Homo sapiens: one gene and its partner. The protein of the gene in region 1 interacts with the protein of each later gene in a pairwise test. Each region holds a gene or a part of one and is shown in the gene's direction. Other genes may lie near its edges.

Evidence for each region.
Region 2: the proteins of DLC1 (region 1) and TNS1 interact in a two-hybrid assay, tested with the Homo sapiens proteins (one study listed by IntAct).

The regions. Positions count from the first base shown.
Region 1 is NC_000008.11:13,088,184-13,092,093, reverse strand, and holds part of DLC1 (rho GTPase-activating protein 7), read left to right. Parts: intron 1-661; coding exon 662-776; intron 777-1,623; coding exon 1,624-1,842; intron 1,843-3,389; coding exon 3,390-3,607; intron 3,608-3,910. UniProt on the Homo sapiens protein: Functions as a GTPase-activating protein for the small GTPases RHOA, RHOB, RHOC and CDC42, terminating their downstream signaling.
Region 2 is NC_000002.12:218,000,692-218,004,601, reverse strand, and holds the start of TNS1 (tensin-1), read left to right. Parts: upstream 1-1,606; 5' UTR 1,607-1,729; coding exon 1,730-1,762; intron 1,763-3,910.

The DNA.
Region 1 (3,910 bases):
TTTATATTTTTAGTAGAGACGGGGTTTCACCATGTTGGCCAGGCTGGTCTCGAGCTCCTGACCTTATGATCCACCCGGCTTAGCCTCCCAAAGTGCTGGGATTACAGGCGTGAGCCACTGCGCCCGGCCACATTTAAATAGTTCTTAAAGTTGACTGGGGCATTCCAACTGCAATGGGATACAGAGCTAGAGATGAGTAGAGGAGAGAGATCAAATAAGATGAAGACAAAAGGTCAAGGAAACAATGGACTTAGCCCTCACCTGTGGGAGGGGGCCTGTGTATTCAGGCAGATAAAGATGATGACACCCTTTACTCCAACTCCCTGGGACTCCTTTCCCACACTCCTCAGAAGTTGCTCCCCCACCATGCAAACACAGCCCCTACAAGCTGCCCTGTTCCCAGTAGGAACCTATTTAATTAAATGGTTTGAATCACCTGGATTTCATCAAAAGCATATCTCTTTAATGTTTTTTTGTGTGTTGTTGACAAAACTCTGAGATACTCTGGTGACCAAAGTAAAAACACTCTTAATCCACTTAACAATAAACAGATTCCAGTGAAAATTTTTTTTTCTCTCTTCTTTGGGTTTCCTTGAATAATACCTTGAAGAAAAATATATAAATATTTGAACTGTTCCCCTCCTGTATTTCTTCTACCTAGGGTAATGCAAAGAAAACAAAGTTTGGGCAAACCAGATCAGAAAGATTTGAATGAAAACCTAGCTGCCACTCAAGGGCTGGCCCATATGATCGCCGAGTGCAAGAAGCTTTTCCAGGTAAGGAATTGAGAAGTTTGGCTCCTTTATTAAGGATAATGTGAATAGGTACAAAATCTTAGGCTTGACCCTTGTTCATGTCTTACCTGAAGACCTTTTCCACAGCTGGAGACGGTATAAATAGCCTGAGAATGTCTTATTTACATATATTATAATGTATCAGCTAGAGTTAATCATGTTTAATGAAATTGTCCCTTTACTTGGAAAAGCAGCCGGGCGCAGTGGCTCACGCCTGTAATTCTAACACTTTGGGAGGCTGAGGTGGGTGGATCACTTGAGCTCCGGAGTTCAAGACCAACCCGGGCAACATGGTGAGACCTCATCTCTACAAAAAAAAATTTAAAAATTAGCCGGGTGTGGTGGTGCACACCTGTAGTCTCAACTACTTGGGAGGCTGAGGTGGGAGGATCACCTGAGCCCAGGGATGTGGAGGTTGCAATGAACCAATATTTTGCCACTGCACTCCACTAGGTAACAGAATGAAACTCTCTCTCAAAAAAAAAAAAAAGAAAGAAAGAAAGAAAAAGCAACAAATTATCTGGAATTAAACTGCTGTATCCACTTCCGTATCTGAGAAACCTGCTTTGACCAATGTAATTCACTCCCCCTACTCTAACTTTCCAAAGACCTTACATGGAAATAAGATTTCAGATACATTTATGGAGGTGATCTGTTCATATCCTCGTGATAACACGTGCGGTCAGCATGATAGCCCACCTCCGGCGGGAAGATGCCTGCACTGCTTTAAGGACCAGGCCATTGTTCCTACCCAGTCTTTTCCACTGATGGGCATTGAGATTGAGTACAGGTGGACTCACCTCCTTTCTGTCTGTCATGTTCCGCACAGGTTCCCGAGGAAATGAGCCGATGTCGTAATTCCTATACCGAACAAGAGCTGAAGCCCCTCACTCTGGAAGCACTCGGGCACCTGGGTAATGATGACTCAGCTGACTACCAACACTTCCTCCAGGACTGTGTGGATGGCCTGTTTAAAGAAGTCAAAGAGAAGTTTAAAGGCTGGGTCAGCTACTCCACTTCGGAGCAGGCTGAGCTGTCCTATAAGAAGGTAAGGCTTCACCCTGTTGTCGGCTAGTTGAGTCCAGGAGTCGAAGCTTGGGTCCATCAGAGATAACACGCTTTTGCCAACTAATCTGTCTGGGGATCTGTAGCCCACAACCTCCCTTGTAGAGCTGGGCACCGGGGTGAGTAAGATCCCCGTGGTGAGAGTGGAAACCGGGCAAAGCAAGAGTAATTTTCTTCCTGTGTAACACTTGGGAGAGGATTTCAACTATTTCTAATGAACTCCTTTGGCTCTACAGAATCACACTAGACTTCCCTAGAATGTTTTGCTAATGGCATTGAGATGCGGAACATCCTATGACACGCTTCGATTTTTCCATAATTTGGTCAGAATCCCTTTGCACTCTTCTCTGTTCTTAGTTACTGTTCTCTTGGCCCTTTAATGAGCGGGGATCCCTTAGGGGGAAATTAACTCCAGTTAGGACTGGTAAACCTCTTGAGGGCAGAGGCATCTTGTAAGGCTCAGCAGGATAGGTCCATCGGAGGTATATGTTGATGCCGCCTCTACCATCTTGAAAATAAACAAACAGTGGGAGTAGGCTGGGTGGCCTTGCCGGCTTTGGAAATGAGTGCAAATGTCTGATGTTTTTGTTTTTATTTATTTATATTTTTTGAGATGGAGTCTTGCTCTGTCACCCAGGCTGGAGTGCAGTGGCATGATCTCGGCTCACTGCAACCTCTGCCTCCCGGTTTCAAGCTATTCTCTTGCCTCAGCCTCCCGAGTAGCTGGCGCTACAGGTGCCCACCACCACGCCATGCTAATTTTTGTATTTTTAGTAGAGACGGGGTTTCACCATATTGGCCAGGCTGGTCTCGAACTCCTGACCTTGTGACTGCCCACCTTGGCCTCCCAAAGTGCTGGGATTATAGGCGTGAGCCACCATGCCCTGCCAGTGACTGATATTTCTTTATTGCATGCACTCTGATATAGGTCCCAGAAAAAAAAAAACAAATGTCATCATTTTTTTCTTTTTTCTTTTGAGATGGAGTTTCATTCTCATCACCCAGGCTGGAGTGCAGTGGTGTGATCTCAGCTCACTGCAAAGTGCCTCCTAGGTTCAAGTGATTCTCCTTCCTCAGCCTCCTGAGTAGCTGGACTTACAGGTGCCTGCCACCACGCCTGGCTAATTTCCATATTTTTAGTAGAGACAGGGTTTCACCATGTTGGCCAGGCTGGTCTTGAACTCCTGACCTCAGATGATCCACCCGCCTCGGCTTCCCAAAGTGCTGGGATTACAGGAATGAGCCACTGCACCCGGCTCAAATGTCATCATTTTGACTCGAGTTGACAACAGCTTTTTTTCACTTTCTGGCTTGCTCTTAAATATGCTTGGGGACAGCAGCCTATTTAAGTCATAGATTTATTAGCCCCCAATATTTCTTTATATACTGATTATATAGTATTATTTATATCATTTAATCAATTAACGTTGATTATATGTAACTAAAATTGTTAGTCTAACTAACAATTCGACTTCAAAAACTAGGTGTGTATGGATTGCCTTGGCACTGAAAAATACATCCTCTTTCCAGGTGAGCGAAGGACCCCCTCTGAGGCTTTGGAGGTCAGTCATTGAAGTCCCTGCTGTGCCAGAGGAAATCTTAAAGCGCCTACTTAAAGAACAGCACCTCTGGGATGTAGACCTGTTGGATTCAAAAGTGATCGAAATTCTGGACAGCCAAACTGAAATTTACCAGTATGTCCAAAACAGTATGGCACCTCATCCTGCTCGAGACTACGTTGTTTTAAGGTGAGCGCTTCCCAGTTGTTTTTTTGTGACAAGGATGACTCCATATATGAACCAAGCCTATATGTCACTGATCTTACAAGATGGTATAATTATTTAAAGTAGAGGCCGGGCATATGGTGGCTCACACCTGTAATCCCAGCACTCTGGGAGGCCAAGGTGGGAGGATCACTTGAGGCCAGCAGTTCAAGACCAGCCTGGGTAATATAGCAAGACCCTATCTCTACAAAAAAATTTTAAAAATCAGCTAGATGTTGTGGTGCATGCCTGTAGTCCTAGCTACTCGGGAGGCCGAGGCAGGAGGAT
Region 2 (3,910 bases), on another chromosome or scaffold:
CCTTGTGCTGTGGACAACCTGTGTATCTGAATACTGCAGTCTTTTTTTCAGATGAAGAGTCAGTGTTTCCCCTTCATTCTGGGGTTTCCCAGGTAGATGTCTTGGGTGGTCCCTGGGCTGGGAGTTGGCACAAGTGGCTGGGCAGATCCCTGTGAAAGAGGAGGCTGGTAGTTGCACGGTATGTGGTGCTGACAGACAGCGGCATGGCATGGCCTTGGGTGAGTGGGGGGGGGAGGCAGGGGATCTGTAACCCTTCGTGCATGTGGCCCCAGGGCATGTATAGCACAGTGTGCATAGGAGGCCAGGCAAGAGAACTTTTCTTGCTAAGTGACTCAGTCTAGGAACGAGGTCTCCAAGTGCCTACTCTGGGAGGGCTCTTATGTGTTGACGTGAGTTGGACTGTGTCCTTGTGTGTGTGTGTGTCCACAGGAGGGTGTGGGGCTGAGCCCTCCCTCCTTCTCCTGGACAGCTCCAAAGAACAGAGCGGGTGATTCACTGGCCCCCACCCACCCTCAGTTGGTCCAGCCAAGGCCAGAGCTCAAAGAGGAAGGGTTTTTTTTGGAGGGGAACGTGGTGGTTCCAGACAATGAAGGCCTGGGGCAGACTTTGCTGGATTCCCCCTTAGTGCTCCGTGGGAATACTTTTGGGTTTTGACCCAGCCTCCTTTCCACCCTCTAGACCCCCAACAATTGTCCCTGGGCAGAGGTGGGGGCGAGGGGAGGGGAGGGCTGGTGGGCAGGGGACACTGAGGGGAAGAAATAGGCCTGTGGAATGGTGGGAGGGGAGAACTGGGCCCAGGGAGGGGGAGAGGGGAGGAGGGGGAGGAAGTGGGGAAATGCAAACCAAATGTTGGCCCCGGGTACAGTCAAGAAAAACACACTCTCGCGGGAGCCTGGAGCGGGGCTCCCTTTCAGAAGGGCAGGAAAGGCTGGGACAGATGTTTGCAGGAAAGAAAGAAAGAAGGGGGAAAAAAAAAGAAATAGGAAAAAAATTGGAATGAAACCCACAGCCTGGGGGCAGGGCCATTCTTCCCCAGTCTCGGGCCCTATTTCTTCTGTGTTAAGGCCTGTCCTGGGCTCTGAGCTTGGCGCGTGGGCACCAGAGTCTGTCCCAGTCTGTGTGTGCAAATGCATGTGTGTTCCGAGGAGGCCAGGAAGGCAGGCACGGGTACTCAGAGAAGGGGAGGGGCCAAGGCACCCTGAGTGTGCTGATTGTGTGGGCCTGGGGCTGTCTGTTCATCCATCAGTGGTCTGGAGGGTTCCAGGAGTGAAGGCCCCCAGGCTGGTTTGCCAGGGGCGGGGGTCTGCAGTGAGGAGGGAGGACTCCAGGCCTACCAGCACCAGATCAGAAGACTGAGGAGCCTTGGTGGCACACAGGGGTTGTGTGTCCGGGGGTGGGGGGCACGGCCTGGGGGGGCCCTGCCTCTGGTAGCTTTCCCTTTTCCCTGTCCCCTTTACACCCCCTGCAAAGCAGGGTTCCTGACCCTCAAGGCCACCGGTGGAGCCTGGGAGGAGGGAGGAGAGAGGAGGCTGGGACGAGGGGTGGAGTGGGGGGAGGAGGAGGAGGAGGGAGGGTGAGCTGGAGGCAGCAGGGCGAGAGGCCCAGCAGATGCTGGCGGAGCCGGAGCAGCCGCGGACTCAGAGAGCCCTTCTGCCAGCGCCGCGGGGACTCTAGCTTCAGGGGCTCTTCACAGGCCCTGGGCGTGCCTCAGTGACGGGACCCAGCAAAGATGACGTGGATCTGTCTGTCCTGCATGCTCTGGGTAGGTCTGGCTGCTTTAGCTGCGACGTTACTCTTCCTCAAACCCCCCGCCCCCCACCGGCCCCTGCCACCTTATCCTTTTGCTGAGAGCCCGGGGTCGGGGGGTGTCAGTCTTGAAGGAGGGGCCTTTCTGTCTCTGACCTACAGAAGGACAGACTGACTTGAGCAACCCTCAGCCGGAAGACTTTCCCCACCAACAGGGCCCAGGCCCAGGGTCCCGGGTCAGTACATCCCCTGCCCCACCCCCCCACCCCCCAATGGAGTCCCAGAGCTGTAAGTGGAAGGAGGCCACAGAGAAGTTTGCTTCTCTTTAGAGCCTTTCCTCCCGACTTGCATCCTACAATGGGGTGAAAATTCTTCACCGCCCCCCCTCAGTTGCTGAGCCCAAGATCTTGAGGAGGAGGCAGTGGTGGGGCTGGGGAGCAAAGAATAGTAGTCCAAAATATTAAGTCTGGAAGAGCTGGGCTGTGGGAGAATTCTCAGAGTCCATCCCTTTTATTCCTTCTACACCCAGTTTCAGCTTCCACCCACTGCCATCCCTTCCTCCACAGCCCTCCCCTGCTACCAAGACCTCTCCATCCTGGAGGAGGGAGCCATGGCCCGCTCTTCCCCCTTTCTCTCTTGGCTCCAGGTTCAGGGAGGTGGGTTTCAGGATGGGGATGCCAGGGGGGCCAGCAGAGAGGCCTGGGGGCCACGTGGTGAAGGTTAAAAGTCTTAAGGCCAGACCTGGGCTGAGGCTCCTGGGTAAAGGGGGATGGGAGAGGGCTGCCTGCTGCAGAAGGGCTGGGGGTCAGAGGAGGAGAGGACCCCTTCCTCAGAGGGGCTCCTGTGGGGCTGTCTTGGCCAGGCAAAGGCATGCATGGGGTCAGGAGGGTGAGGAAGTCGTCCCTGGCTGAGGTTACTGTTGGGCTCTGAGAGAGTGATGGCTGGTTTGGGGGAGGGGGCTTCAGGGCTGTGATCCAGATGTGGCCTTTCCTGTCCCTTTCCTTGTTCTGGCCAGTCCTCGGGAGGGCCCTCTTGGCCCAGGCAAGCCCATGCTGGGGGCAGTTGTGGGAACACAAACTCGGGCAGCCAGGTGTCCTCTGGGCAAAGAAAGAAAGGGTGGGGGAGGGGGCCTGGAATGAGGCGGTTTGGGTGGCATGTTGGGCTGGGGTGCTGGGATGGATTGGATTAATAGATTGAGAGTGACTGGGGAGGCCTGCACACAGGATGCATTTGTGGTTTACTGGGCTGGTGTTGACATCTGGGAAATGGGAGCCTTGGCCAGGTTCGTCTCTGTGCTGAGGACAGAGGTAGGCAGGAGGGAGCTCTGCAGCAAGAAGGATGGCAGGTAGACGTCCAGGGGTGACACAAGAAGGATGGCAGGTAGACCTCCAGGGGTGACGAGCTGCTGTGACTGGAGAGAGGGCTCTATAGATCCCTTCAGCTGACTGATACTGGGAAAAGTGCCTCATCCTGGTGAGCCTCTGCTTTCCCGTTGGTGAAATGAGGATTGCAGAGAAACAGGGTACAGAGAGGTAGGGATGAAATTTTGTATCCAATTCCCCAGGGCAGTGCCTGGCAGGTAGAGTGCCCTATGGGTGTTATACCCTCCCTGAGAGTAAGGGGAAGAGTCTGGGGACCAAGGCAGCTGTGAGTGCTGCTTCCTTGAGTGTCTTTATTTTTATTTATTCATTTTTTTTTTAATTGAGATGGAGTCTCACTCTGTCACCCAGGCTGGAGTGCAATGGCATGATCTTGGCTCACTATAACCTCTACCTCCTGGGTCCAAGCAATTCTCCTGCCTCAGCCTCCCGAGTAGCTGGGACTACAAGTGCGTGCCAACATGTCCAGCTAATTTTTTATATTTTTAGTAGAGATGGGGTTTCATCGTGTTGGCCAGGCTGGCCTCGAACTCCTGACCTCAAGTGATCCTCCCGTCTCAGCCTCCCAAAGTGCTGGGATTATAGGTGTGAGCCACTGCGCCTGGCCTTGAGTGTCTTTAAGACTAGAAAAGCCTGTGTCCCTCCCCTGTCTCCTTTTCCTCTCCTCTCCTAGTCCCCATCCTTTCTAGGCTGGCTGTGATGCCCATGGCCAGGATGGGCCAGAGACTGGGGCAGTAGGGACTGGACAGAGGAAGCAGTCCTGGCACCAGATAGGACTAGGCTCA